6 separate regions of the Homo sapiens genome follow, and regions 1, 2, 3, 4 and 6 are each linked to region 5. The links come from fine-mapping of genetic effects on gene expression. A gene starts in region 5. Each other region holds a variant in brackets. All regions are shown on one strand. Distances are from middle to middle.

Region 1 (4,000 bases), 96 kb after region 5:
ACATGCCACAACATAGATGAACCTTGAGAACATTATGGTAAGTGAAATAAGCCAGTCACAAAAATAAAAATATTCTATGATTCCACTTATATGCGATATCTAGAGTAGTGAGATTTATGGAAACAAAAGTAGAATGAGGGCTGCGGGGAGGAGGAAATGAGTTGTATAATGGGAATAGAATTTTAGTTTTGCAAGATGAAAAAGTTCTGGAAATTGGTTGCAAAACAGTATGAACCTACTTATCACTACTGAACTATACACTGAAAACAAAAGATCGAGATGGTAAATTTTATGTTATGTATATTTTACTACAACGTTTCTAAATTGGGAAAAAATAGCCAGGTGTGGCAGTGCACACCTTTAGTCCCAGCTACTCAGGAGGCTGAGGCGGTAGGATTGTTTGACCTAGAAGTTCAAGGTTACAGTAAGCTATAATCACGCCACTACTCTCCAGCCTGGGTGACGGAGCAGGACCTTATCTCTAAATAAATAAAAGTTAAAAATAAATAAATAAAGATTTTCTTGGAGGACCAAGAAAATCTCTGGAAACAGAAATTCCACTTCTAAAAAACCCCACAAAAATTCATAAAATACCTGGGAAAATGTGTTGATGAGGCATACCGCATTTTATTGTGCTCTGCAGATATTGCATTTTTTACAAATTGAAGGTTTGTGATAATCCTGCATCGAACAAGTCTGTTGGAATCATTTTTCCAACAGCATGTCCTCACTTCATATCTCTGTGTCACGTTTTAGTAATTCTTGCATTATTTCAAGTTTGTTATTATTATATCTGTTACGGTGATCTGTGATCAGTGATCTTTAATGCTACTACCATAATTGTTTTGAGACACCACAAACTGCACCTGTGTAAGACTGCCAACTTATCAATAAATGTATGTGTTCTGATGCTCCACTGACCAGCTGTTCCCACATCTCTCTCCTTCCCCTTGGGCCTCCTTATTCCCTGAGACACAATAATATTGAAATCTGACTATATTATTAAATATAATAACCCTACAATGGCCTGTAACTGTTCAGATGAAAGGAAGCATCCCACAATCCTTCCCTTAAGTCAAAAGCTAGAAACGATTAAGCTTAGTGAGGAAGGCATGTCAAAAGCCAAGATAGGCTGAAAGGTAGACCTTCTGCACCAAACATTTAGCCAAGTTGTGAATGCAAAAGAAAAAAGTTTTTGGGCCGGGTGCAGTGTCTCATGTCTGTAATCCCAGCACTTTGGGAGGCTGAGGCGGGCGGATCACCTGAGGTTGGGAGTTCGAGACCAGCCTGACCAACACAGAGAAACCCTGTCTCTACTAAAAATACAAAATTAGCCGGGCATGGTGGCACATGACTGTAATCGCAGCTACTTGGGAAGCTGAGGCAGGAGAATTGCTTGAACCCAGGAGGCGGAGGTTGCAGTGAGCCAAGATGGCACCATTGCACTCCAGCCTGGGCAACAAGAGTGAAACTCTGTCTCAAAAAAAAAAAAAAGAAAAGAAAAAGAAAAAGAAAAAAACTTTTTGAAGGAAATTTAACATGCTACTCCAGTGATCACATGAATGATAAGAAAGTAAAGCAACCTTATCACTGATATAAAGGAAGTTTGAGTGGTCTGGACAGATCAAACCAGTCACAACATTCCCTTAAGCCAACACCTAAACCAGAGCAAGGCCGTAACTCTTTTCATTCTATGAAGGCTAAGAGAGGTGAAGAAATGACAGAAGAAAAGTTTGAAGCTATCAGAGGTTGGTTGATGAGGTTTAAGGAAAGAAGCCATCCTCATATCATAAATACAAGATGAAGCAGCAAGTGCTGATGTAAAAGCTGCAGCAAGTTGTCTGGAACATCTAGCTAAGATCATTGATGAAGGTGGCTACA[C/G]TAAAATACAGATTTTCAATGTAGACAAAACCACCTTCTATTAGAAGAAGACACCATCTAGGACTTTCATGGCTAAAGAGGAGAAGTAAATGTCTGATTTCAAAGCTTCAAAGGACAGGCTGACTCTCTTGTGAGGAATAATGCAGCTGGGCACTTTAATTTGAAGCCAATGCTTATTAACCATTCTGAAAACCATAGGGCCCTTAAGAATTATGCTAAATCTACTCTGCCTGCACTCTTTAAATGAAACAACTAAGCCTGGATAACAACACATCTGTTTATGGCATGGGTTACTGAATATTTTAAACCCACTGTTGAGACCTACTGACCAGGAAAAAGAGTCCTTTCAAAATATTACTGCTTATTGTCAATGAACCTGATCACCCAAGAGCTCTTGTGGAGATGTACAAAGAGATGAATGTTGTTTTCATGCCTGCTAACACAACATTCATTCTGCAGCCCATGGATCAATGAGTAATTTTGACTTTCAAGTCTTATTATTTAAGAAATACATTTTGTAAGGCTGTAGCTGTCATAGATAATGATTCTGCCGATTGATCTTAGCAAAGTAAATTGAAAACTTTCTGATTTTCTTGATGTCATTAAGAACTTTTGTGATTCATGGGAGGAGGCTAAAATATGCACATTAACAGGAGTTTGGAAGAAGTCTATTCTAACCCTCCTGGATGATTTTGAAAGGTTCAAGACTTCAGAGAAGGCAGTAACTGCAGATGTGATGGAAATAGGAAAAGAACTAGAATTAGAAGTGGAGCCTGAAGATGTGACTGAACTGCTACAACTTCATAATCAAACTTTAATGGATGAGGAGTTGCTTTTTATAAAAGAGCAAACAAAGTGGTTTCTTAAAGTGGAAACTACTCTTGGTGAAGATGCTAGGAACATTGTTGAAATGAAAACAAAGGATTTAGAATATTTCAGTAACTTAGTTGATAAAGCAGCAGCTGTGTTCGAGAAGATTAAGTAGAGATTTTGAAAGAATTTCTACTGCAAGTCAAATGCTGTCAAACAGTATGGCATGCTACAAAGAAATCTTTCATGAAAGAGTTAATCGATGTGGCAAACTTCATTATTGTCTTATCTTAAGAAGTTGCCACAGCCACCCCAACCTTCAGCAACCACCACCCTGATCAATCAACAACCATCAACACTGAGGAAAGTCCCTACAACTAGCAAAAAGATAGGACTCACTGCAAGCTCAGATGATCATTAGCATTTTTAGCAATAAAGTATTTTAATTAAGGTATGTACTTTTTTTAGACATAATGCTATTGCACATTTGATAAACTACAGTACAGTGTAAACATAACTTTTATGTACACTGGGAAACCAAAAATTTAGTGTGACTTGCTTTATTGAGAGATTAGCTTTATTGTGATGTGGTCTGGAACCAAACCCACATATCTCCAAGATACACCTGTACGAAGAAGTACATTGCTGCTTTACTGAAGAAAAAAATTGAAAAAAAAAAAAGAGAAAAAAGATGTAGAACCAACTTGAAATGCCCTTAAAGAAATGAATATTATGGTATATCGTTTAAAATAACATGAAAACATTAAAATGATTATAAGGAAGTATGTAATAACCTGGAGTGTGCTTCAGAAAGTTTCATTCATTCAACAAATATTCATTAGAACTGGACATGGCTTCTTCCTGTAAGAAGTTCATTCCCTAGGTAAGGAGATAAGGTGAAGAATGAGAAAGCTCCTTGAGGATAGGTCTCTGTCTTGTCATTTCTCCAAGACCTAGAGCAGTGGCTGACGCACAGCAGACGTTCAATAAATATTGGTTGGCTGGCTAACAAGGATAACACCACACACATAAAAAATTAATTCCAGGCAACATATAACTTAAAGATATCTTAACAAAAACTCTATGAAGGCTTTGGAACTTTACAGAAGAAATCATTGAGACCAAGACGGAGAGAAGCAAAGTTCATCAAAGTAGATGATGCATCCTTGTTTACCTTTGGAAGACCAGAAGAAGATGAGAGGGGGCTTGGCAGTGGGAAGTAGAGCTAAGGTAGCACTTCAGCTGCTAGAGTGTGCTTTGGCACTTGAGTCGCCATGTGGCCAGACCAACAGATCACTGGGCATCTCCA
Region 2 (4,000 bases), 62 kb after region 5:
AAAAAAAAAAAAATAGACAGGTGTGGTGTCATGCACTTGTAGTCCCAGCTACTTGGGAGGCTGAGGCAGGAGGATCACCTGAGCCTGGGAGGACGAGGCTGCAGTGAACCAAGATTGCACCACTGCACTCCAGCCTGGGCAACCGGAGTGAGACTCTATCTCAAAAAGAAAAAAAAATGACCAATACCTGAGTTTTATAAACTAAAAATTAGGTCCTAGATATATTATTTTTCTCATTTATCAAGTGGCTTAAGGGAACTTTAAATCCTTTTATCTAATATCTGTCACCTTTTATAGTTAATGATTGAATAATGATCAAATTAATCTAAGGTATTTAATGAGAGAATGCAGATATAAAGGGGGATTTGCTGACTAATCTTGAATATTAGTGATAAATGATAATTAAGACAGAATCCCCGTCCACAAGTAATTTATAGTCCATGATAATATAGATTCATAAATAGGTTTTTTTTTAAGTAGAAAAGAATATGTGCCATAATGTCATGAGTCTTTAGTTTAGAAGTGTTTCTGAATCAGCATTGCTGACATTTGGGGCCAGATCATTCTTCATTGTAGGGGCTGCCCTGTGCACTGTAGGATCATTAAGATCCCTCCTGACCTTTACCCACTAGATCCCTCTAACATCCTCCCACTCAGTTATGACAACCAAAAATGTCTCCAAACATTCCAAAATGTCTCCTAGGGGACAAAATTACTCAGGTTTAGCCCTGTTCTTCTCTAGCTGAGAAGATCAGAGAGAATTTTTTACAGCAGAGATAACATTTGAATTGGTTCTGACAGCTGGGCAGGACAGGCATAGGCTACATCCAATAATTTGGAGGAGGACATACAGAGGGAATAACATGAGAAATGTTAACAAAGATACAAAAAGGTAAAGTAAGTTTCTATTTCATACTGCACCTTAACTCCTGCCTGTAAGGCTTAGGAAAAAATAAATGCAAGTTGTAACTATGGAAAGGAAGAAATAAAAATATCAATATGTACAGTTTATTTTCTTATATACTTAGAGAACGCATGATCAACCAAACATTACCAGAAGCAATAAACCAGCTCTCAACATTAAAGGATCTAAATTAAACTGACTCTCATAACTTCAGATCTGGATTCAACTCTGGCTATCAACTGTACAGGCAACCTAGTATTACTTAACTTCTCTAAGCCTCACTTTTCTGGCAAATATGTAAGACAGTTTTGAAGATCACATTAAATAATTCATATATAAGTACTTTGAAAAATGCAAAGCTTTGTCAATATAATTGTCATAATTTCTATTACCACCTTCATTGCTGAGAGATTCCTAAGAGGTAATACTAAAAATGTAATATAAGGAAGGGGAAAACACACACACACACACACACACACACATCAAGAAAACAAACTAACAAAATAAAACCTTTAATTAATTATTTGGGATTCTTTGCTAATTCCTCACCTTTTTTTTTTCTTTTGAGATGGAGTCTCGCTCTGTTGCCCAGGCTGGAGTGTAGTAGCGTGATCTCAGCTTACTGCAACCTCCACCTCCTAGGTTCAAGCAATTCTCCTGCCTCAGCCTCCCAAGTAGCTGGGATTACAGGCATACACCACCACGCCCAGCTAAATTTTGTATTTTTAGTAGAGACAGGGCTTCACCATGTTGTCTAGGCTTGTCTCTAACTCCTGAGCTCATGATCCACGCACCTCTGCCTCCCAAAGTGCTGGGATTACAGGCATGAGCTATCACGCCTGGCCTAATTCCTCATCTTTTAAAAGCAGCTAAAATTTATTAAACATTTACTCTTGCCAAATACTATGTTAAGTGTTTTGCATGGATTATCTCATTTGAATGTAGGAACAATCCATTTACAGAAGCAAAATCTGATACTTAGCAAGGTT[A/G]AGTAACCTGCCCAAGGTCATATAACTAGTACATGATAGACCAGTATCCTAACAATGGCAATCTGGTATAGCTATAGTATAAAGTTAGGGTGAGTCTTTAGTATCAGAAAGCTATTATGTAACCTTATATAACCTTTCTCTTTTTTCTTTTTTAAGACCACACTAGAGGAACCTTATGTAACCTTTGCCAAGTTATATAAATAAGCTTTTTAAGCCTCAATTTTCTAATCTTTAAAATAAAGATAATATTACATACCTCACAGGATTAAATGAGTTCATATATGTAAAACTCTAACAACAGGGCCTATCACATAATGTGTTCAATAATATTAGCTATAATTGTCATTATTACTACTACCACCATCACCCACCACTGTACTCTACTAATTAATCAGAGGAAACCTAGATTAGGACATTTTTGCAAACTTTAGTAATCCAGGTAACCTTTCCCACAACTCTGATTGGGTGCTCTGTTTTGTTTTTTCCTACCTAACTTAATGCTTTTGGAGTAGGGCTATGTAACTCATAAGTCACATTTATTTCATACCATAATTAAACGTGACCAATTTTTGCCTTTAATCTAGTGTCATAGGAATGAAAAAAGGATTTAGTCACCTATTCTATACCCTTGCCTCCAACAAGCGATATCCTAAGATTATCATCATCTGAGATGTCGTAACCCACTTCATATTTACGGAAGTCCAAGGAAGGACTTTTCCCCAACCCCTCTCAGAAATGTGTCAAGTCACATGTATTTTCTTTGAGCCTTTGTTGCCGTTGCCTTGAGAAAATGTAGCTTTTTCTGCTAAAAGCAAAAAAAAAATTTTTTAAAAAAAGCATCTTTTTCTTTATAGGGACTAAAACCAAACAGGTAAAAGAGTAGTTAGTGGTGTTTTTTAAAGATTAACATATGAACATGCTAAAAATTAAATTATCAAAATGTGTAAAGGAAAATCATTTATTTTTCTCTGTTTCAAGCAAATGAAAGTTTGTTTTTCATGATGGAACAAATGAAGATTTGGGGACCATGTGGAAACAAGCTGAACTAATTTATTGCCAAATGTTACTCTGTGACTGTGAAGCTTTTCATCACTAGTCTCAAAAAATGACCTCACAAAGCTATTTCTGAAAGCAATCGCCAGGTTATTAAGTCAATGACAGGTTTGGACTGTGCTCTGATTCTTAGTGGATTAATTATTTTAATGATTATTTTTCCTTTTAAAAAAAGCACCAGATTTCTCTCCCCTTCAATCGGCTGAAAACTATAGGATTTTCTTCTCTCTTCTCCCTTAGACGTCAAAAGCACCAAATCATCTGTGAGATCCTAGTTGATTTAAGACCAGATAGAGTCATCATGGAAATAAAAATGACAGTCAGCCTAAATAGAATATCAGGAGATTAACAGTGAGAGGAGGGCCATTTCCTTCCTTCCATTTCCCACACCAGAAGTCAGCTTGATTTGGAGCCAATGTCTAGAATACTAAACTAGCTAAATGACCCATCGTCTCTGGTTGAGAAGACAGATTGACTGTTTTGGTTGCAGAGCTGCCTCAAGAATGGGAGCCTTTCTGATGGAAGGTCTGGGACTACTTGAATTCACCACATCACCGAGATTTTCAATCGAGGGGTCCTTCAAGGTTTAGCTACCATAAGCCTGAGGAATCCAGAGAGACTGTACTTATGGGAGGGTATTTCCAAATGGTTTGATGTTAAGGAGTCCAATTTATTCTTTGACTCCTGTTATCCCACAAAAGCAATAACTGGACTCCCACTGACCAGGAGACATACTGCAGGGACCAAAGGGATTAGACTGCAATCTTTCCCTTGCAGTCAGGTTAGCTGAATAAGAAAAACTCTTAAGGCTCCTAAAAGTCAGGTCAGACCAGATTCCAGAAGTCAGCAAATGGGCACTTAATATTAAGTAGCATCCAGCTGGAAAGTGGACAAAATTCAAGATTTCAGGTTTTAGTTCGGGGAGAGAGGAGCTTGGGAACCAGGATATCTGTTGTGGAAGAACTGTGCAAGTACATCTTAGATTCCAAGACTCCGCCAGCTAGAGGTGCCAGTGAACAGAAGCTTCAGAAGGAGCCTGATTCTGGGGTGTTTT
Region 3 (4,937 bases), 100 kb after region 5:
GTTTTGCACAGAACTGGGGATATAAAAGAACTGACCATGTTTCCTCGATTTGGGTGATTTGGAGGATTTCCTTTTTGGGTTTCCTTAAATTGGAAAAGGGTAGAGAAAAGAGTAGCAATGACTACCAGCAGCAGACCCCTGCCACTTTGAGAGCCTTGAAGGAACATCCAAGGACAAAGGGTAGGCAGCTAAGGAGCATGTCTTGGGGGAAGCCTGAGGTGGCCTGTGCACTGTGGCTCAGGACAGTCACCAAAACATGAGTAGTTTCTTCCCCCTTCCTCACCCCGCCTACCCAGAGAGCAAACACTCTTTCCCGTTCTCACTCTCACTGAGAAATAACTCGCCTAGTCATGTAGACAACAAAAGCCAAGTCCAGGACAAAGGAAACTGTCTGCTGTGTCACCTCTTCCCCTGTCCACCCGCCCTCAGCACTCTCCAGCCTTACTGGGGATGTAGGGGGACCTATAGGTTTCCAGGCAGGAGTGGAGACATTCTCACAGCTTTCTCCACCATTCTGTTAGCACCATGCCTGTGAAGCAAAAACTAGGGAAGCCTCATCCCTAAGACTGAGAAATATGGCCCCATGCAATGAATTCTGTGTTCTCTTTGCCATTCGAGCCATCTTATCTGCTGGGAGCAGTCAATGAAAGAATTGGCATCAGTGGCAAAGGTGCTTGTGATAGAAGCCTTATATGGTTAGAGGTTCTTTGATAGGAAATAAAGTTTGACTTTTTTTTTTTTTTTTGAGATGGAGTCTTGCTCTGTTGCCCAGGCTGGAGTGCAGTGGCACAATCTCAGCTTACTGCAGCCTCCCCCTCCCGGGTTCAAGTGATTCTCGTGTCTCAGCCTCCCGAGTAGGCACCACCATGCCCGGCTAATTTTTGTATTTTTAGCAGAGGTGGGTTTTCACCATGTTGGCCAGGCTGGTCTCGAATTCCTGACCTCAAATGATTCGCCTGCCTCGGCCTCCCAATGTGCTGGGATGATAGGTGTGAGCCACTGCACCGAGCCTGATTATTTTTAACTCTATTTTTTATTTCACAAAGCTCAGTGCATAGGCTCCGTAGTAGCTTTAGAAGTCACTATCAAAGGCTATTTTTCTATGTTGTTATATGCATTCGACGTGGAAAAGAAGACACAACCCCAGAGAGAAAGGCTTGGAGGTGAGTGAATGCTTCATGTGAATCTCCAGACTAAACCCACCTGATTTCCATGGCCAGCATGTAGATCCTGTGGGGTGGGGATAGTGGCTCTGACACAGACAATTCGCTATCACATAGCTACAGACATGGCGTTTCAAGGGCCTTTTCTTCCTTGATATTCATCTCTTCTCTTTAGAGAGTGCCCACATAGTATAAAAGAGAGGTGATAAAATGTGGCCTAGATTGAGGAGAAATTATTAAGACTTATTTTTCTGTAAGACCTCAAAAGATTCTCTATGATTATTATCTCCACAGGGAAACAAATGTTGGACAAAATACAACCAGATTCACATAGCTTATCCTATGGAACTTTGCCTGATGGAAGTGACTCAACAAAGAGCCAAAGTGGAGAGAAGAAAGAGGTCTAAATGCTGAGAAGGATGGCTGTTGGCCTGTTATTCGATACCACCTTTTTAAAAAATTGCACATGTTCAATTTGTGTCAGCAGCTCTTTTATAAGCT[A/G]ACATGTGCTAGCATTCATTTCAGTCCTTTCCCCCACCTCAGCGTCTATGGACAATCGGGGACTTCCTAAGCTCTGACAGTCTAATATTTCCATGGAATGTGATTTGGAGTGTTCCCCACACCCTGGACCTCTCCCTAGTGATTATCTAGCCAGCTACACCTTACTCAGAGCCCGGCTGCTCTAGCAGGAATGTTGCACAGAAACATACATTTGCGGTTTGGCCACAGGTCGCATAGGTGGCTTCTCCCACGGGTAGTGTCAGTTGCTTCACTTTAAAAAGTCACTTCAGCCCCACAACCTCACTCCCAAAAGAAAGGTTTGAGAGCGCTCATTTTTTTTCTAAGACACCTTTTATAAGCCTCCCTATAAAAATCTCACCTTTCAAGTACTAAGTTAGAATTGCAAGTCATCTTTTCTGAAAACTAATGCTATCAAAGTCCTCCTTTGAAAATTAAGGGTCTCTTTAAAATTAGAATTTATAAATGGCATTCAGTGATAGTGTACACCAAAATTAAAAGACCTTGACTGGTGGGCTTTTTACGTGTAAGGAAGAGGAAGTTTAAGAAGTAGGACTCTGCTTGTTTCAGTAGCCCATGTACTAAAATAGGAACAATGCAGAGATTAGCACAGCCCCTGCACAAGGCTGACACATAAATTCATGAAGCGTTAGAGACAAAAAGTAGGACTAATGTTTGTTTATTTTTTAATAAAAATCTAGAATGGTGATGTTTTCTTCAGCTGTATGATTCTATCATACTTGAAACTGAAGAAAAATTTAATATCCTATGTCTTTTTTATAGATCTTATAATTTATCAAGTGGATTTATATGTCTTATTCTCCATATAAGTCTAAAAAATCACATTTAAATTCTTAGTGATAGTTTCACTACACATCATTTCTTCCCAAAGTCATTACCTCAAGCTTTGTAAATTCTTCTAGATAAAAGGAGAGTTGTGATTAGAGAACTGAATTTCAGCCATTTAAACCTGTAGACATAGAAAACAACCCAGTGGTCAAACCTGAGCTTCAAGAGGAAGCCCAAGTCCTCCTGTTTCCTGAATGGCTTTTCCACTCCAATTCATCACATATCTGCTAAGACACATTTGCAGGTAGAATCCATAATAATATCTGTTATTTATGATCTACCTAATATTTAAAGGAGAAGAAAAGAAGTAGCCTTCGTTGCAGCCAACATCCAACAATAAGTCCCACCCTTAATGACATTTCAAAGCCTTCAGATCACTTCTGACATGTCTGTCCAATATCATTCCAATCAATAGTCTTGCATTTAAATAGGTTGTTTAACTCGGTGGTATTGAGACTGTAACCTTAATGGCTCAGGTCTTTTAGCTTTGTTCTTTGTCATAATCTGCACTCCTGGCCAGACTGACCAAACCTGGCTGCAAAGGAAAGAGATTTGAATTGATCACCAATGTATGAAAAATACAGAACCCATGTCTGGCTCCTAAACTCCTGGTAATAATTCCCGCCATCGTAGCAAGTGTCCCATGCATTCAGATAAAGCAGTCATAATTTATGGTGTATTTTACCGAATTGGTCCAGCATATTGGTCCTACAAGGCTCAGCCAAGAAATGTATCTGGTGCCTTAAACTACAGATTTCTGGTGACTCTTAAAACTGGTTTACAAAGATTGAGAAAACAATTAGATTGAAGAGTTTTGCTTCAAGTAGACCTGCATTCATAGCTAGAGTGCATGAGATTTTCAGCACTGTAGAATTTCACACAGGCACAAGCATAACACCAGTACTTTAGCAGCCGCCAACAGTTGCATCTATTAAACGTTTTGAGAAATGACATTGACTTATGCACATTTAAGCAATCAACAATGTTTTAGAAGTCCAGGTAACATATAAAATATATTCAGACCTAGTTTTACTTTCCATATTGTTGCTCCAAAGTAAGGTAAATAGGAGTTTTAGTTGTACTGGCCTGTAAGATTTTTTAAATTACACAGTGCATGACAACAACTAAAGCCAACTCAGTCCTTCTCTTGGCATTGTGAGTTGAGGACCTTTAGCCAACTGTTAGCTCATCTGACTATCTGTCTAGACCAAGGGTCGGCAAAGTTTTCAGTAAAGACCCACAGAGTACATATTTTGGAGTTTGTGTTGTCTGTACCAACAGACAGACATGGTGTCTGTCCCAACTACCCAACTCTGCCATTGTAGCACTAAAGCAGCCATAGACAAGATGTAAACAGAAGAGCATGGCTGTGTTCCAGTAAAACTTTATTTACAGGCCAGGCATGGTGGCTCATGCCTGTAATCCCAGCACTCTGGGAGGCTGAGGCTGACAGATCATCTGAGGTTAGGAGTTTGGGACCAGCCTGGTCAACATAGTGAAACCCCATCTCTACTAAAAGTACAAAAATTAGCCAGGCATGACGGTGGGTGCCTGGAGTCCCAGCTACCTGGGAGGCTGAGGCAGGAGAATCACTTGAACCCGGGAGGTGGAGGTTGCAGTGAGCCGAGATCATGCCATTGCACTCCAGCCTGGGCGACAGAGTAAGACTGTCTCAAAAACAAACAAACAAACAAACAAACAAAAACAAGTGGCCAGTCTGTGAGCTATAGTTCCCAACACCTGGTCTAGACTCTTCTGCCCTTGCTCTGCAGCTTCTTTCCTGTTGATTGGGCATTCAGGGAAGGAGTTTAAAAAGTGACACTCATGGCTCATGACAAATGAGATACTTTGGGAGTGTGGAAACATGGCTTGATATTTGCCTTCAGATATTTTTGCTTATATAAGTTCTAAATGGAAGTGATAAGTTCATTCTTAGGGTCCAAGTTGAAAGGCAGTGGTTCTTTTGTGAACACCACTAACTACATTCGAAAAGCCTCTCCAATTCCACATTCCAAGTCTATAACAGCTTTGGAAATGAGTAACAATGACCTCTCATGTAGTAGATTAAAGCAGAGGCCTTTGCCATATGATTGTTTTTTGGCTTAAATGTTTGCTTGCCCTGTAACTGTAATACTTTGGTTACCAGAATCACTTGAAAACAAATACAATAAAAAAATTTCTCAAGCAGTGACCCAGAATGTATTCTTCCCCCTCTTCAATACCCCACACACTCCTAGAGATTCTGTTCTGTGGCAATGTAAGAAAGAGAAAGGCAGATTTCATAGATGAGTACAATTTCAGTGCTATGAAAGAGTAATGGTGGTAATGTGTAAGTTTGGCTCCAAAGGACGCAGGTGTAATGGTGGACATAACTCAAAGAGATAGAAATGTCGAGCCAAGTTCCCT
Region 4 (5,124 bases), 110 kb after region 5:
GGAATGACAGTCTTGGCACTGCCTCCAGTTATATTTGTTGTTCACTAAGGAGTTTTGTGGAATTCAGACTCATTTTCCACTGAAACAGGGGAAAGTAAAGACGGCACCAAATAAAAATAGCTTCCCGGCGTTTCCTGTTTACTCTGCTCTGCGGGCTTCCCACGGCCTGGGGGCTTCACTGGACGTCTGCACAGAAAGCCCCTCTCCAAAGAACACCGCAAGTGACGATTTGCTTTCTTCTTCTGTGTTTCTAACTCTCTTCCTTGTGTTCCACAGAAGTTTAGTTTGGGGGTCTGTTGGGTTAACTCCCAAGTCTCCTTTTTCTAGCCCTTTTTAGAGGGAGACAAGGTTGCAGGGTGTTTCTCTGCTTTCCACGGCCCTGTTCTCTCACAAAGTAGAGCCAATCATGTCCGGCCTGCTGGGCCTCAGAAGGAAGATGTAGGAGAAAGAGTAGGTGACACAAATATAAAAGGACTGTGGAGAGAGGGGCCCTGGCCAGGCACAGTGGCTCATGCCTGTAATCCCAGCACTTTGGGAGGCCAAGGTAGGAGGATCACTTGAGCCAAGGAGTTCCAGACCAGCCTGGGCAACACGGGGAGACCCCGTTTGTGCAAAAAAAAAAAAAAAAAAAATTAATTAGCCAGGTATGGTGGCACATGTGTGCCTGTGGTCCCAGCTGCTTAGGAGGCTGAGGTGGGAGGATCCCTTAAGCCTGGGAGGTCGAGGCTGCAGAGAGCTATGATCTCGCCACTGCACTCCAGCCTGGGCAACAAAGCAAGACCCTGTCTCAAAAAACAAAACACAACAAAAAAAGGGGGTTTAGGCCTGGCACAAAGATTTCACATCCTCCTTCAGAATAATGTTCAGGAGAGAACAGAATTGACAGCAAAGACACAGGTGACAAGACAGGAAAAGCTCATCCAACAGAAGAGCAGAGGTGTCCCAGACATCGAGCCTAACGGAGCTGTGTGTGACTCTAAGCTTTTGCTTAAAACCACGGAGACATCAAACATGTTCGGGGAGAGTTCCGTCTGAGGAGCAAGCAACTCCTGGGTGGGCCAGGAGTGACGGGTCTGTGCTGCAAATTGGTGTTTGGCCCCTGCACACAGCCCACGTGCTGAACATGTTTTTTCGGTCCAAAAACAATGGGAGCAGCCTCACTTTCCCTACTGATTTTTGCACCACAACAATAAAGTTAATAATGGAAAAAACATATCCCATGGCCAGGAACACTCTGAGCGAGCACAGCAGAGTGTTGGATCTACCATCTATCAACAGAAACTGCTGAGAGCAAACCAAAGCCTGTTAACTGATTTTTATGAATGATTGAAAGAGCAAAGCAGATTTATTTGATTTCCATCATATAAAAATTGACAGTTACATAAATATATCTCTAAAACTGTCAGGATGAAAACCATCCCATTCTTGACAGGAAGTGAAGTCACAAAAAAAGCTAAACTGACACTGCTATCGGGGGCCTCTTGTGGATTGAATTGGGGCCCCCACCCAAAATAAACATTAAAGTCCTAACCCCCACTACCTCAGAATGTGACATTATTTGGAAATAGAGTCTTTACAGAGGTAAGCAAGTTAAAAATTAGGCCATTAGGGACTGAGCCCTGACCAGTTCAGCTGGTGTCCATAGAAAAAGGGGAAACATGCTCACAGAGACACACTGAGTGAAGCCAAGGCGAAGACACAGTGAGACACCATCAACAAGCCCAAGGGACAACTGTGACCACCTGAAGCCAGCAGAGAGGCATGAAACAGAATCTTCTTCACAGACCTCAAAAGGAACCAACCCTACCAACACCTTGATTTTGGACATCTAGGCTCCAGACTGTGAGACAATAAATTTCTGTTAAGTCCCCCAGTTGATGGTACTTTACTACAGCGGATGTAGCAAACTCATACAAGGACTTTCATCTCCTTTGCTCCCAGAGGCTGACGCTCTGCTCTGTTCGGAGAATCTGCCATGGTGCAAACCTTGCTGGGAAGCAGAGCCACCCCGCACCTCACTATAAAAGCTGAAAGCCAAGATTTCCCTCTCCCCCACCCCTGGCAGATGATGCTCTGTTCCAGGGCACTGGGGCTAGAGCACTGGGCAGTTTAGAATGGATTCTTTCGTTGCCTGCAGTGGTGGCTCCTAACCTCCAGTTGTAATGATGCCAGGATGCCACCCAGCATTTGCCAGAAACCTGACCTTGGCCGTACATCTGGCCATTTGGTTTCACTTGGTTCCTTCCCCTTTTCCAAGCCCAATCCTGCAGACTTCCCATGGATTCTGTAAGCACCTCAGCAAACGAGGACATCAGTGCAGATCAATAAAAAGCCGAGCATCCCACACAGTTTGTCTGGCATTTTCCACCCCCTTGACCATGGCCTGTGAGACATCCTAATCTCAGTGCAAACAAAGGCAAACTCCCCACATTTACCCTCCATCTTTTCTCCAGTCGCCACCAAACTACCTCTGTTCACGGCACCCCTGTGCTCCCCTGACCACCATGAGATAGGTCCCATACAACACACGCTTCCCCTTTTTCCCAGGCTCCCAGCAGCCACCCTTATGTCAGGTCCTCCCACCTGAAACACCACGCCAGCCCACACACTGGTCTGAGCCATTGTCTGCATCTCAGATTCCCATGCATGCTGGTGGGGGCAGTGAGTCCTGGAGAGAGAGAAAGATCTGATCCTACCCCCAGCATGCATTTCCCCTGCTACTGCTCCTGGCCTCACCATCTGCTCACCTGCACTCCACTGGAGTCCAGCCCTCCTTCAAAGCCCATCTCTAATACGGATAAAGAGTTTTATAATTTTTCTTCTTGAAACAAGATCTGGCCCTGTCACCCAGGCTGGAGTACGGTGTCACAATCTCGGCTCACTCCAGCCTCAACCTCCTGGGCTCAACCGATCCTCCCGCTTCAGCCTCCCAAGCAGCTGAGACCACAGGTGAAGGCCACCGTGTTCTGCTAATCTTAGTATTTTTTTGTAGAGATGGGGTTTTGCCATGTTTCCCAGGCTGGTCTCAAACTCTTGGGCTCAAGCAATCCACCTGC[ACCTGCC/C]TTGGCCTCCCAAGGTGCTGGGATTACAGGTGTGAGCTACTATGCCTGGCCAGTTTTATGATCCTTATCAGCCAGAGGTGCTCCTTCCCACCTTCAAATCCCCTTTACGTTCTTGGATGCAACTCAGTGTCTTCCACGTTGCGTTACAGTCATCTACATGCTCATCTGGTTCCTGCTATTCAATTGCCACTATCTATGGGACAGGATTTGCCCTGGACTCCTCTCCAGCTCCACTACCACCACCGTCACTTCTCAGTGATGATCACTCACAGCCCCCTAGCTGATCATTCAGTAGAAAAGCCCCAGTCAAAAGACTAGACGTGATCCAACCTCCATGACCTCCCTGCCCAGAAGGCCTCCTCCTTGCTCCATCCTTCCCTACTCTCCAGCTTCACTGCTTCCTCCCTGTTCACTGAACACACCGGGCACACTCCTGCCTCAGGGCCTTTGCACAGGGTAAGTCCCTCAGCTTAAGTTTTTGCCCAAATGTCACCTTCTTGAGGAGGTCAGCCCTGACCTCCTTATTTATAATCTTGCAACCCACCCCACCTCCACCCAGTACCCTTAGTCCTGTTGCCCTGCTTTCTTTCTCTCTGTAGCAAAGATCACCTCCTAGAATAATGAATAATTTTTTATTATGTTTATTGATCATTGTCTGCCTCCCCATCCCCACCTGCCACAAAGTGAGCCCCTCAAGAACAGGAATCTTGATCTGTTATGCTCGCTGATGTATCCTGGGTGCCTGGTACGTGGGGGAGACCCAATAAATATTTGTTACATAAACAAATCTCTGAATTCTGCATACTCCTGACTACGACAGTCACTAGGTTCCCAAATCATGCTACTTTTCTTTTTAAGCCTAGCTGCCTGTTTGCTTGGCTGCTCTTCCCTGCGCTGCCATGGAAACCAACAGCCTAGGGACAGGTTGCTTTTCATGAAGTCAGGCAACGTGCATCACACCCCGCAGAACACACGGACCTGCACCATGTCCTCCACAGCCAGGGGACGGGATGCTCCGCCCAGTCAGCTGGACGTGTAGGGGTGCAAATGGCCCTGGGGCCAGCACCACCCCAGCTCAGGCAGTCTCGGGTCCCCATGCAGTGAGCAGTGGAGGCTTCCCAGGAGGACTCACCCCTGACTGATGGATGCCCACACAGACCACATTCTGTTCTCAGGAGAGGCTCAAGTCAGAATGTTCCCATTGCCACCCACAGGCACTTTCTTTCTATCCCCAATAATAGCAGGTATTTATGGGGCACCTACTATGGACGAGGCACTTTGCATATATTACCTCCAATCCTGGTGGCACTGAAAATTCAGTTATTATGACTTTCACACTTGAGGGAACTGAGGCTCAGGGAGACTAATCAGCTTTGCCTTGGGTCACAGCAAGTCAGTGAAGGAGGTAGATTGGAATCCAGGCACCGAAATGTGTAGCCTCTTCCCACGCCATGAGCTCCCACCTGCGCTGCTGTCTGCAGGCTCCTCTGCTGTGATTGTCTCAGACCCTGTGCCTGAAGAAGGGCGGATAGAGAGCAAGTGGTGGGGGCAGAAATCACTGTAGAAACCCAGCGTGTACACATGACATGCATGCACACACACACACACATGCACACACACAGATCAATGACATGGCCCCAGCAACATTGTAACGCCAGAGTAGGTTTCTGAAGGAGGGGGAGCTCTAAGCTCTCTCTGGAGGCCTTTAAAAAATAACAACAAATAAAAGATAATTCCATCTCATTGGAATGACGTAGGTGTGGTCGTGTCTAAAAGCAGAGATCAGCTGACCCCAACAGTCAGCTTTATGACTATGATAAACCATTACAGAGCAGGCGGACTAACTACTTGGAGCATTGCTAAATCTGTTTTTAATAATGTCACCATCCCAGGACCAAACCCTGCCCTGTCGCTGCAATAAAGGTTCATCATTGCTGGAGAAAGAGCACTGGGTCACAGAGGGCAGAGGCGGGGAAGAGGAGACAGCCTGTTTGTTCTCAAGCATGGGGCTTCATGAGTCATAGGCTCGCTCAGGCGGTGGGGGAAGAGCTTGAAGATTTAT
Region 5 (4,841 bases):
CAAAAAATTAAAAAAAAAAAAAAATTGTCTGGGCGTGGTGACTCACGCCTGTAATCCCAGCACTTTGGGAGGCTGAGGTGGGTGGATCATGAGGTCAGGAGATCGAGACCATCCTGGCTAACACGATGAAACCCAGACTCTACTAAAAATACAAAAAATTAGCTGGGCGTGGTGGCGGGCATCTGTAGTCCCAGCTACTCAGGAGGCTGAGGCAGGAGAATGGCGTGAACTCGGGAGGCGGAGCTTGCAGTGAGCCGAGATTGTGCCACTGCACTCCAGCCTGGGTGACAGAGCAAGACTCTGTCTCAAAAAAAAAAAAAGTGTGGACTTCATTATGGCAATAGGGAGGCTTCAAGGCATTTTAAACCAGAAAGTAACACAATCCATTTAGTATTTTGCTTGTTAGCAACTGTACAACTACTTACAATCTGGCTGATAGAAAAATACTAGAGTGGTTGTACCAGGGTTGACTGGTTCCCCTCCCCCATAACCCCATGGCATTCCCACTCATCCTGGTTGGTAGAGCTTACCTCTCACTAGGTTGGAAATACCCAAGAATCACTTTCCCAGCCTCCCTTGCTGGTAGAACATGGGCATGTGACCCAGTCCCAGCCAATGGGATCTGAGGTGAAAGGATGCCAGGAGGATTCTGGAAAAGGCTTTCCTCCCTCAATGGACAAGACCAGTACCTCAGGGATAGCAGAGCAGAAAGGTGGAAGTGACGACATAATAGAACCACATAGAGACACATTCCTCTGGAGATAGCAGATAATTATTGTTTAAGCCACTTTTATTTGGATACTCTGTTACTTGCACCCTAAAGCATGTGAAGAGAAAGAAGCATTAATGAAGTCACCAATATCAATGAATGTGATGTTATAGAAAACTTATCAGACAAGGCATGGCAGCTCACACCTGTAATCCCACCACTTTGGGAGGCCGAGGTGGGACAACTGTTTGAGGCCAGGAGTTCTAGACCAGCCTAGGAAAAATTGCGAGACCCTGTCCCTACAAAAAAATAGAAAAATATTAGCCAGGGCCAGGTGTGGTGGCTCACACCTGTAATCCCAGCACTTTGGGAGGCCAAGACAGGGGGATCACTGGAGGTTAGGAGCTTGAGGCCAGCCTGACCAACACCGTGAAACCCTGTCTCTACTAAAAATACAAAAATTAGCCGGGCTTGGTGGTGTGCACGTGTAGTCCCAGCTACTCAGGAGGCTGAGGCAGGAGCATTGTTTGAACCCAGGAGGCAGAGGTTGCAGTGAGCTGAGATTGTGCCACTGCACTGCAGCCTGGGCAAGAGAGAGAGACTCTATCTAAAAAAAAAAAAAATTAGCTGGGCATGGTGGCATGCACCTGTATGTAGTCCCAGGTGGGAGGATCACTTGGGCCCAGGAATATGAGGCTAAAGTGAGTCAAGATCACACCACTGCACTCCAGCCTGGGCAACAGAGCAAGACCCTGTCTCAAAAAATAAAATAAAATGTAATATAACAAATAGAGACCTTTTTCCTTCAGATATTTATTTGAAGTAAATCAGCCTCTTAAAATTGGGAATAGTTACCTACAATTGTTAGCTGTTCACTGAACATCTCGAGTGCTTAAGCAAGAAACTACACAATTTCTGAGACGACATGTCTTGTTTTTTCTGTATGTGAAATGACTTTTTCTCACTCTTTTCTCTCATTTGCACATTTCCCCTAAGAAACACTGAAAACTGTCCCTGCTCCCTTCTAGGCAGCAATTCTCTTTTCTTGAAGGTCTCTCTTTCATGAACTCATGGAAGTCAAAGCACATTATCTAAGAAAAACCTCAGCATTGTGTAAACAAAAGAAGGCAACTATCAGCCTTCAGGCAACAGTATAGAATCATGGTTTTTTTAAAGTGAGAAATACCCTACAGATCATTTGTGGTCACACATTAGAATTTGAATACAGGTAAAACCAGAACATCTCGTTAGAGTTCTTAAGATTAATAACAACATTTATCTTTCATCCTAAATTCATATATACAGTAGCTGGCAACTTTTCAGCAACTCCACCTGATCCCATCTGAAGCAAACCCAATCCAGTCATCGCACACTGGGGTCCTATGGCTACCACATTCCTCATTCAAGGAATATTTACTAAGGATCTATCAAGCACTGGCACTGAGATTCAATCGCTCGGATCTTTTTTTCTCATATTGCTTACAATATTTCTGGGAACTCATGACTTTTTCATATGCAATCAATTTTTAAAATATCGGTGAGAAACACTACATATGTGATAGAGGACTGGAATTGCCAGGTAGAGATGGGAGATGATAGCTGCTTTGGGTTAGTCAGTGTCTCCTCCTCTTCCATTGACTTGGACAAATGTTTACAACGGAGATGATCTGATTCTGGCCCCGACAGGCGCGGGGACCCGTTGCGGACGGCCGCGGGGATTGCCCCCTTGGGCAGTGCGGCCCCGAGGATGCAGACACTGGCCCAGCGGAAGGAGGGCGCGGTGCGAGCTGGACGGCCCCGGGAGGCCGCAGACCGCCGGGCTCCCCGAGGACACCTCGCACCGGAGGAGGAGAGGAGGCAGCGCCCGGCCAGGCTGGGAGCACCTACGGCCGCGCGGGGGCGGGAGCCAGGTGGCCTCGGCGCGCCCGCCTCGCCCGGGCACCGAGCAGGAAGTGGCTGCGGCGCGGCCTCCTCGCGGTGCAACAGGGCGGGGAGGCGGCCGCAGCCCGAGCCGGAGCCCGAGCGCCGGGAGCGAGACCTCATGGCAGCGGTGGCGCCCGCGGGCCCCGGGGACTCCGCCTCGGCCGCCCTGGACGAGCTGTCACTGAATTTCACGTACGGGGCACCAGGCGCCGGCAACGGCTCCCTCTCGGGCGACTGGTACCGCAGGAACCAGGTAAGGGCCGCCCCGCAGCCACCGCAGCCCGGTGGGGACGCGGCCAGGGCGGCTGGCTCCGGGCGCCTCTGCGCCTCGGCCGCTTTCCTGCCAGCTCTCAGGAAGACACCCGGCCTCTCCGAGTGGGAAGAGGTGACATGCAATGTTTCCCGCATTGACCTAAGTCCGCCTCATCCGGAAGCGCGGGGGTCCGCCCAGTCTTCCTCTCCCGGGCACCCGGCACTGGGAGTGGGCGCCCAGGTCTTCGGCCTTGACCTCAGCCACCCGTTCCTGGGACCTCCGGGTCCCGATCCCGCCTCCCCAGCCTGCGTCCGCCCTCTTCTCCCGGAAGGAATCTAGGAGTGTGGGGGCAATTCACTCATTTTCACCCCAGGATCCTTTTACAGTTAAAAGAAAAGAAAAAAGTGACACCCTGTTATCAGAAGCAGAAAACTCATTAAGGGCAGCCTAATGTCACCTCGCGCAGATGCCCTGCGTGTGTCCCTGGTATCTCAACACAGCTCTTCCATTTCCGTGCGAGGAACACATTTTCTCAGGTTGCATTTGCAGGACTCTCATTCTTTCCCACCGGCCCTTTGGGAAAACTTTGTTAACTTAAACAACGCCAGTTTACACTGGAAATATACATTTAACAAAATCAAAGGGACTTGGAGCCGCCCATTTATTTTTGGCTTGGTTTAAGATGAGGAAGTGTTCTGGCCAGCCCTTCCTCTAGCAGCGTTCATATTGCAACTAAGTTTTATCACGGTGGATTCCAGGCTTCCTCCTGTTTTCATTAAATGTGTTACTTTGTTCTTGTTCTTTAACAAAACCATGGATACTTTTATTTTTGCAACAATATAATCAGAAAATATTTGTTGCTGTTGTCCTAAATCGGAGAGTTTAACCAATTATCAAAGATCTGGATTCCTTTTATGCCTGAAGTGTTCTAAATATTAATTTCTGAATGCAGAAGAGAATATATTTGTATAAAGAATAAGTAAGATAAATAAGCATGTTCACTTTATTAGTTTTCAAGAGGGGAGAGTATTGCTTTAAGTCATTTCATCATAAAAGATATAAAAATAGGAAAAATGAGGGTACTCAGAGCCTCTTGATCAATGTTTGTAATCCAACCCCATTTCTCCTTTCTTCTACCCACAGGAATTACAAAGAAAAGCATCATTTTTATGGGAACTTGAATCTATCTATTATATTATTCTTTTATTAGAAGTATTCCCAATATAAGTTTAAGAATGAGTTATCTATCCCCTCTTGATTAAAAAAAAAAAAAAAATAGAGGGTTAGCAGATGTGATCATCCAAAAACAGGACATTGTTTTCACAGTGGAAACCTCTGTAGTCATTAGTTTTCTTTGACATTTCCTGGAATTCTTGATTGTCTTGGCTGTCTGATATCCAAACACAGATTATCATGTGACATAAATGTGAGGCAAATAAATACTGTTTGCAAGGCTTAATTTGCCTTTGACAGTGTGTATTTGTACAGGTTAGAAAGGATGTATCCAGAATGTGCTAATTGAAATTACTGAGCTGACATCTAAACTTTGCTGGTTTGAGATAAAACTGTATCAAGTTTTGCCATTATTGTGCAAATTTAGGCCCTCTTATAAGATGGTGGTATTTTATCTTTTCAGTAATTGCATTTGTGTTAAGCAAAAGTAAAAATTAATTTTTAAAAAGTTTACTCGAGAAGCATTTTATTGAGTGCCTCTGGTGTTGTCCAGGCCAGTAAAAATAAAATTGAGTCTAATTTTTCTTGTCTTTTTTGACACTGAATAGAAATGGCTGAAAATGGGTGTGGATACAGAAAAACAAAGTGTGAGATATAAATGTGTCACTCCCACAATCAAAATGAATGTTGGTTGCTAACTAGCCACAGCTTAATGATGCTTATTTGCTTGCCTCCATTGGTTTTATCACAACTAAAATATTTGCACAGTGTGTGTTGGCTGAT
Region 6 (5,124 bases), 220 kb after region 5:
GCTAGATCACGAGGAAAAAAAAAAAAAAAAGGCCTTCTAATTTCTCTTCTGAAATTAAGGTTAATACGGCTGGGCACGGTGGCTCATGCCTGTAATCCCAGCACTTTGGGAGGCCAAGGTGGGCGAATCACTTGAGGTCAGGAGTTCGAGACCAGCCTGGCCAACATAGTGAAATCCCGTCTGTACAAAAAATACAAAAATTATCTGAGCATGGTGGCGGGCGCCTGAAATCCCAGCTACTCAGGAGGCTGAGGCAGGAGAATCGCTTGAACTCAGGAGGCAGAAGCTGCAGTGAGCTGAGATCGCGCTATTGCACTCCAGCCTGGGTGACAGAGAGAGAGAGACTCCATCTCACAAAAAGCGTAAATGCTTGCTCTGCTTTGCACTCTAAGAGGGGTGGACAGACCCACCTCACCAATGTGATGTGGCTGCTTGCCAGGTTCGGTCACTGTGTCTATGTTTCACTCTGTCTGAGTACAGAGTACAAAGGCCCATGGTCAAAAGCAGGTGTCTGTGGCCAGGCACGGTGGCTCACATCTGTAATCCAAGCACTTTGGATGGGTGAATAACTTGAGCCCAGGAGACAAGCCTGGGCAACATAGCAACACCCTGTCTCAAAAAAAAAAAAAAAAAAAGGCAGGTGTGCTTGAGATGGGAGTTAGCAGTTAGCAACTGTGTGGCTGGGATGGAAGACTGAAATTTTACAACAGAGCAGTCCTATTCACACCAGACATTTGGGCCTCAAGCGTGGGGGCTCTGTGCACCCTGAAAGCCACTGGCACCAGAGAGAGCACTGGGGAGACCCAGGAGGAGAAAGATCTAAGGTCTTTCCGCTGACTGATTGCTGCCACCACTCTCTCAGGTTAGGCACCTACATGCAATTCAGATGACTTCAGTTCCATGCTTAGGAAACATAATAGATCACATTAAGCAAAGGGGGGATTTTCTTTTCCAGAATGAAAAGCCACTTGTAACAAAGCACAGGTTGTCCACTCACAACCTGATACACCTTTGAGGCCACCATTAAGCCTCCTGGTGTAAACATTTGAAAACTGAATTGAACGAGCTTCTTCATAAAGCAAAGCATAAGAAAAAGCTGCAACTTAGGAAGTAGGTTTGACCAAGAATCATGAACATAATTAAACTGGAAGATTTCAATAAGATTAGAACAGAAAATAAAAATCTGCCTTTTCGCCCATCATCAAACTTCAGAGTCTCCAGGAGGAATATTAGAGAAGTCTAGGGGGCAGTGAGAAGTCAAGTCAACCACATGTACCTTTGAGATGATGTGATGAGAAGGGCAGTTTATCTCTGTGGTCTTCCTCCCAAAAACCCATAACTCCAGTGTCATCATGAGAAAAATACCAGACAAATTCCAGTTGAGGAATCTTCCACAAAATACCTAACCAGTGCTCCTCAAAACTGTCAGAGTCATCAAAAACAAGGACAATCTGAGAAACTCTTAGCCAAGGGGAGCTGAAGGAGGCATGATGACTACATGCAATGTGGGATTCTGGATGGGACGCTGGAAGTGAAACAGGACATTAGAGAAAAACTAAGAACATCTGACTAAAGCATGGACTTTAGTTAGTAATCATGTAACAGATTTGGTTCATTAATTGTGACAAACATATCCTACTAACATAAGATGTTAAGAGGAAAGTGAGTGTGCAGTATATGAGAACTCTCTGTACCAACTTCATAATTTTTCTGTAAATCTAAAACTATTCTAAAATAAAATTTATTTTTAAAAATTATAGCAGGGAGGCCAAGGCAGGAGGATCACTTGAGGCCAGCAGTTTGAGACCAGCCTGGGTAACATAGTGAGACCTTGTCTTTACAAAAAATAAAAATATTAGCTGGGTATGGTGGTGCACAGCTGTAGTCTCAGCTACTCGGGAGGCAGAGGCAGGAGGATCACTTGAATCCAGGAAGTTGAGGCTGTACTCAGCCTGGGTGACAGAGTGAGACCCTGTCTCAAAAAAAAAAAAAAAGTAAATTAAAATGAAAAATAAAAAAATTATAGAAGCAAAAATATAAGAGCAAGTAATCTAGCTAAATAAGAAGACCTGGTAGCCTTAGAAAAACTGTCTCATAAACTGTAGCCATTCGCATACCACTTTTATGATTTTTGAATATTTCTTTACCATTTGTGCTATTATTGACTTAATATTTTTGTCACCATTTTTCTTTAAATAAATTTACTTTTTTAAAAAGTGAGGAAGGCCAGGTGAGGTGGCTCACACCTATAATCCCAGCACTTTGGGAGGCTGAGGCAGGCGGATACCTTGAGTCCAGCAATTAGGGACGAGGTTGGGCAACATGGCAAAATGTCAACTCTCCAAAAAACAAAAAAAAATTAGCCAGGTGTGGTGGTGCATGCCTATAGTCCCAGCTGCTGGGCTAAGGTGGGAGGTCGAGGCTTCAGTGAGTTGTGATAGCGCCACTGCATTCCAGCCTGGGTGACAGAGTGAGACCCTGTCTCTAAAAAAAAAAAAA[G/AG]AAAAAGAGAGAAAAATTTAAAAAGTGAGGAAATCAACAAACTCAGGGATCTAGAACTTGATTTTAAACAAACACAAAAAGCTGGGTGCAGTGGCTCACACCTGTAATCCCAACACTTTGGGAGGCCGAGGTGGGTGGATCACCTGAGGTCAGGAGTTCGAGGCCAGCCTGACCAACATGGTAAAACCCTGTCTCTACTAAATATACAAAAATTAGCCGGGCATGGTGGCACCCGTCTGTAATCCCAGCTACTCCGGACGGTGATGCAGGAGAATCACTTGAACCCGGGAGAAGGAGGTTGCAGTAAGCCAAGATCACAGCACTGCACTCCAGCCTGGGCGACACAGCAAAACTCTGCCTCAAAAAAAAAAAAATTATATATATATATATATATATATATATATACATATATATATATATATATATATATATATACATATATATATATATATATATATATACATATATATATATATATATATATATATAGAGAGAGAGAGAGAGAGAGAGAGAGAGAGGGTCTCACTATGTTGGTTAGGCTGGTCTTGAACTCCTGGCCTAAAGAGCAAGCTTCCTGCCTCAGTCTCCCAAAGTGCTGGGATTACAGGCATGAGTCACCGTTCCTGGCCCAGACTATATTCTCAGTGCATTATATGTATTAACTTATTTATTCCTCAACTCTATGAAGTACTATTGTTGATCCTATTTTGTAGATGAAGCAGCATGGAGAGGGTCAGTACCTGGCTCAAAGTCACACAACTAATAACTGATCCTGAACGAGGATTTGAACCCAGTCTAACTCCAGGCCCACATTCTTAATCAGCACTCTATACTGTCTTTCAGTTGAAATGAAATGTTGAACTTCATACCCATACATTAATGCAAGGTGTACAGGTAACCAGAACCTCCCATAACATCTAGTCTACAGGTGCTATACCTTTAGATTAAGTACTAAGTAAAGGAAATTAGCAAAAAAGAAACTCTGTGGTTTATATCAGAGTCTTGAGAAAATGGGAAGAGGCAGAAACAGGCACACACACAAAAATCACCTTACAGAAAAAAAATAAAAGACAAAAGGTTCATTATAATTATCATTAACAGTGAGGAAAAGAAATAAGCAAAGAGAATGTTTTAGGGAGAACATTTCAACAAAAGTCCTTGCTGGGGTGGCTGAAGGCAGATGTTATCTCTAAGCAAAAGAAACTACTAGTGAAAATGACAGAGCAGCTGGAATGCACATCCCAACACTTCCTTTTTAATTTTAATTTTAATTTAATTTTTTTTTAGATGGAGTCTCACTCTGTCACCCAGGCTGCAGTGCAGTGGCACAACCTCGGTTCACTGCAACCTCTACCTCCCAGGTTCAAGTGATTTTCCCGCCTCAGCCTCCTGAGTAGCTGGGACAACAAGCGTGTGCCACCATGCCTAGCTAATTTATTTTGTATTTTTAGTAGAGATGGGGTTTCACCATGTTGGCCAAGCTGGTCTCCAACTCCTGACCTCAGGTGATCCTCCTGCCTTGGCCTCCCAAAGTGCTGTGCTCACAGGCATGAGCCACTGCACCCGGCCACCAACACTTCCTGATCCTTTTCAATGTCATGACATACACAGAATATGATATTTGTGCATCACACTTCAACAAATGGAGGAAGCTGCTTCCAGATGGCTCAGGCTGTCAGGATCCCACCTGGCTGCCCTAAAGGCTAGGAGAAATGCTGGCATGGCTATAAACCATTCTCACAGGCTGGGAAACTCTGATATAAACAACTTAGGTAGTACTAAATCATGCACTCCAGCATTGACTGTCTTATTTCACCCACCTTCATAAGGTTTAATTCCTAGGGGGTTTTAGCTGCTAAAAACCATGTGGGGCTGGGCACGGTAGTTCATGCCTGTAATCCCAGCACTTTGGGAGGCTGACTGAGGTATTAGGGTTGCTTGAAGCCTGGAGTTTGAGACCAGCCTGGGCAGCATAGTGAGAACCAGTCTCTACCAAAAAAAAAAAATAAAATAAAACTTAAAAAATAAAATAAAAACAATGTGGATTGTTGTTTTTTTCAATATTCATCCTTAAAGGACAAAGCTCAGACACCCTTGATTATATACAATGAATGAACTTGAGAGCCCGAAGGCAATTCCCAAGAAGTGGTTCAAGGACTGTGAAAAACAGCAATAGCCCTGAGATGGGTGAAGAAGCTTCTGAAGTCATTACAGGACTTTCAAGACATAAACACACCTGGAGAGCTATAGTCTGGCACTTTGCTTTAAAAAAAAATTACAGTGGGGCACAGTGGGTCATGCCTGTAATCCCAGCACCTTAGGAGGCTGAGGTGGAAGGATAATTTGGGTCCAGGAGTCCAAGCTGCCGTGAGCTATGATTGCACCATTGCACTCCAGCCTCGGCAACAGAGCAAGACCCTGTCTCTAAAAAAGAAAAAAAAATTACCTAGTACTACTCACACACACTCTAGGATTAGAAGCCTCATCAAGTTTTTATCAGCTTTGGTGAGACTTTCATTAACCCCCACACGTATTCAGGGTTTCTTTCAACTTGATATTGTAAAACATTAACATAGAAGTGAAACTGTACACATGAGCTGGTTGTGGGGCCACCTTACAGAAGCA

Which allele goes with the higher level. Positions count from the first base shown, and alleles are read on the strand shown. Sizes are in standard deviations (SD) of each study's normalised expression. Not every link is listed here.
With allele G in place of A in region 3, the expression in ovary of the gene that starts at base 2,653 in region 5 is lower (small effect, 0.30 SD a copy in GTEx).
In carriers of allele C in region 4, the expression in cerebral cortex of the gene that starts at base 2,653 in region 5 tends to be lower than with ACCTGCC alone (small effect, 0.33 SD a copy in GTEx).

Evidence for each region. PIP is the estimated chance that this variant, and not a neighbour inherited with it, causes the effect.
Region 1: its variant is the best candidate, but not a certain one, in a credible set for the expression of NIPAL2 in whole blood (TOPMed, PIP 0.64).
Region 2: its variant is the best candidate, but not a certain one, in a credible set for the expression of NIPAL2 in tibial nerve (GTEx, PIP 0.72).
Region 3: its variant is the best candidate, but not a certain one, in a credible set for the expression of NIPAL2 in ovary (GTEx, PIP 0.78).
Region 4: its variant is the best candidate, but not a certain one, in a credible set for the expression of NIPAL2 in cerebral cortex (GTEx, PIP 0.62).
Region 6: its variant is the best candidate, but not a certain one, in a credible set for the expression of NIPAL2 in iPS cells (iPSCORE, PIP 0.75).

The regions. Positions count from the first base shown.
Region 1 is chr8:98,196,454-98,200,453 of GRCh38, reverse strand. The region is part of intron 8 of NIPAL2 (NIPA like domain containing 2); the gene reads left to right. All of the region lies in intron 2 of NIPAL2-AS1 (NIPAL2 antisense RNA 1), which reads right to left. Among named protein-coding and RNA genes, the nearest start is that of NIPAL2-AS1, 22 kb to the right of the region's middle. The variant C/G (reference allele first, on the strand shown) is at 1,882.
Region 2 is chr8:98,230,727-98,234,726 of GRCh38, reverse strand. The region is part of intron 4 of NIPAL2 (NIPA like domain containing 2); the gene reads left to right. The region is part of intron 2 of NIPAL2-AS1 (NIPAL2 antisense RNA 1); the gene reads right to left. Among named protein-coding and RNA genes, the nearest start is that of NIPAL2-AS1, 56 kb to the right of the region's middle. The variant A/G (reference allele first, on the strand shown) is at 1,894.
Region 3 is chr8:98,189,611-98,194,547 of GRCh38, reverse strand. It overlaps NIPAL2 (NIPA like domain containing 2), which reads left to right. Exons shown (of 11, transcript NM_001321635.2): 11 at 1,458-4,722. The coding sequence ends at 1,570. The region is part of intron 2 of NIPAL2-AS1 (NIPAL2 antisense RNA 1); the gene reads right to left. It also overlaps the pseudogene RNU6-914P. Among named protein-coding and RNA genes, the nearest start is that of NIPAL2-AS1, 16 kb to the right of the region's middle. The variant A/G (reference allele first, on the strand shown) is at 1,665.
Region 4 is chr8:98,179,274-98,184,397 of GRCh38, reverse strand. It overlaps NIPAL2-AS1 (NIPAL2 antisense RNA 1), which reads right to left. Exons shown (of 3, transcript XR_928444.3): 2 at 4,354-4,576. Among named protein-coding and RNA genes, the nearest start is that of NIPAL2-AS1, 5.4 kb to the right of the region's middle. The variant ACCTGCC/C (reference allele first, on the strand shown) is at 3,057.
Region 5 is chr8:98,292,047-98,296,887 of GRCh38, reverse strand. NIPAL2 (NIPA like domain containing 2) reads left to right here and starts at 2,653. Exons shown (of 11, transcript NM_001321635.2): 1 at 2,653-2,885. The coding sequence starts at 2,751. The region is part of intron 5 of LOC105375659 (a long non-coding RNA gene); the gene reads right to left. RefSeq lists a silencer at 2,414-3,133.
Region 6 is chr8:98,071,297-98,076,420 of GRCh38, reverse strand. The region is part of intron 1 of ERICH5 (glutamate rich 5); the gene reads right to left. Among named protein-coding and RNA genes, the nearest start is that of ERICH5, 9.3 kb to the right of the region's middle. The variant G/AG (reference allele first, on the strand shown) is at 2,500.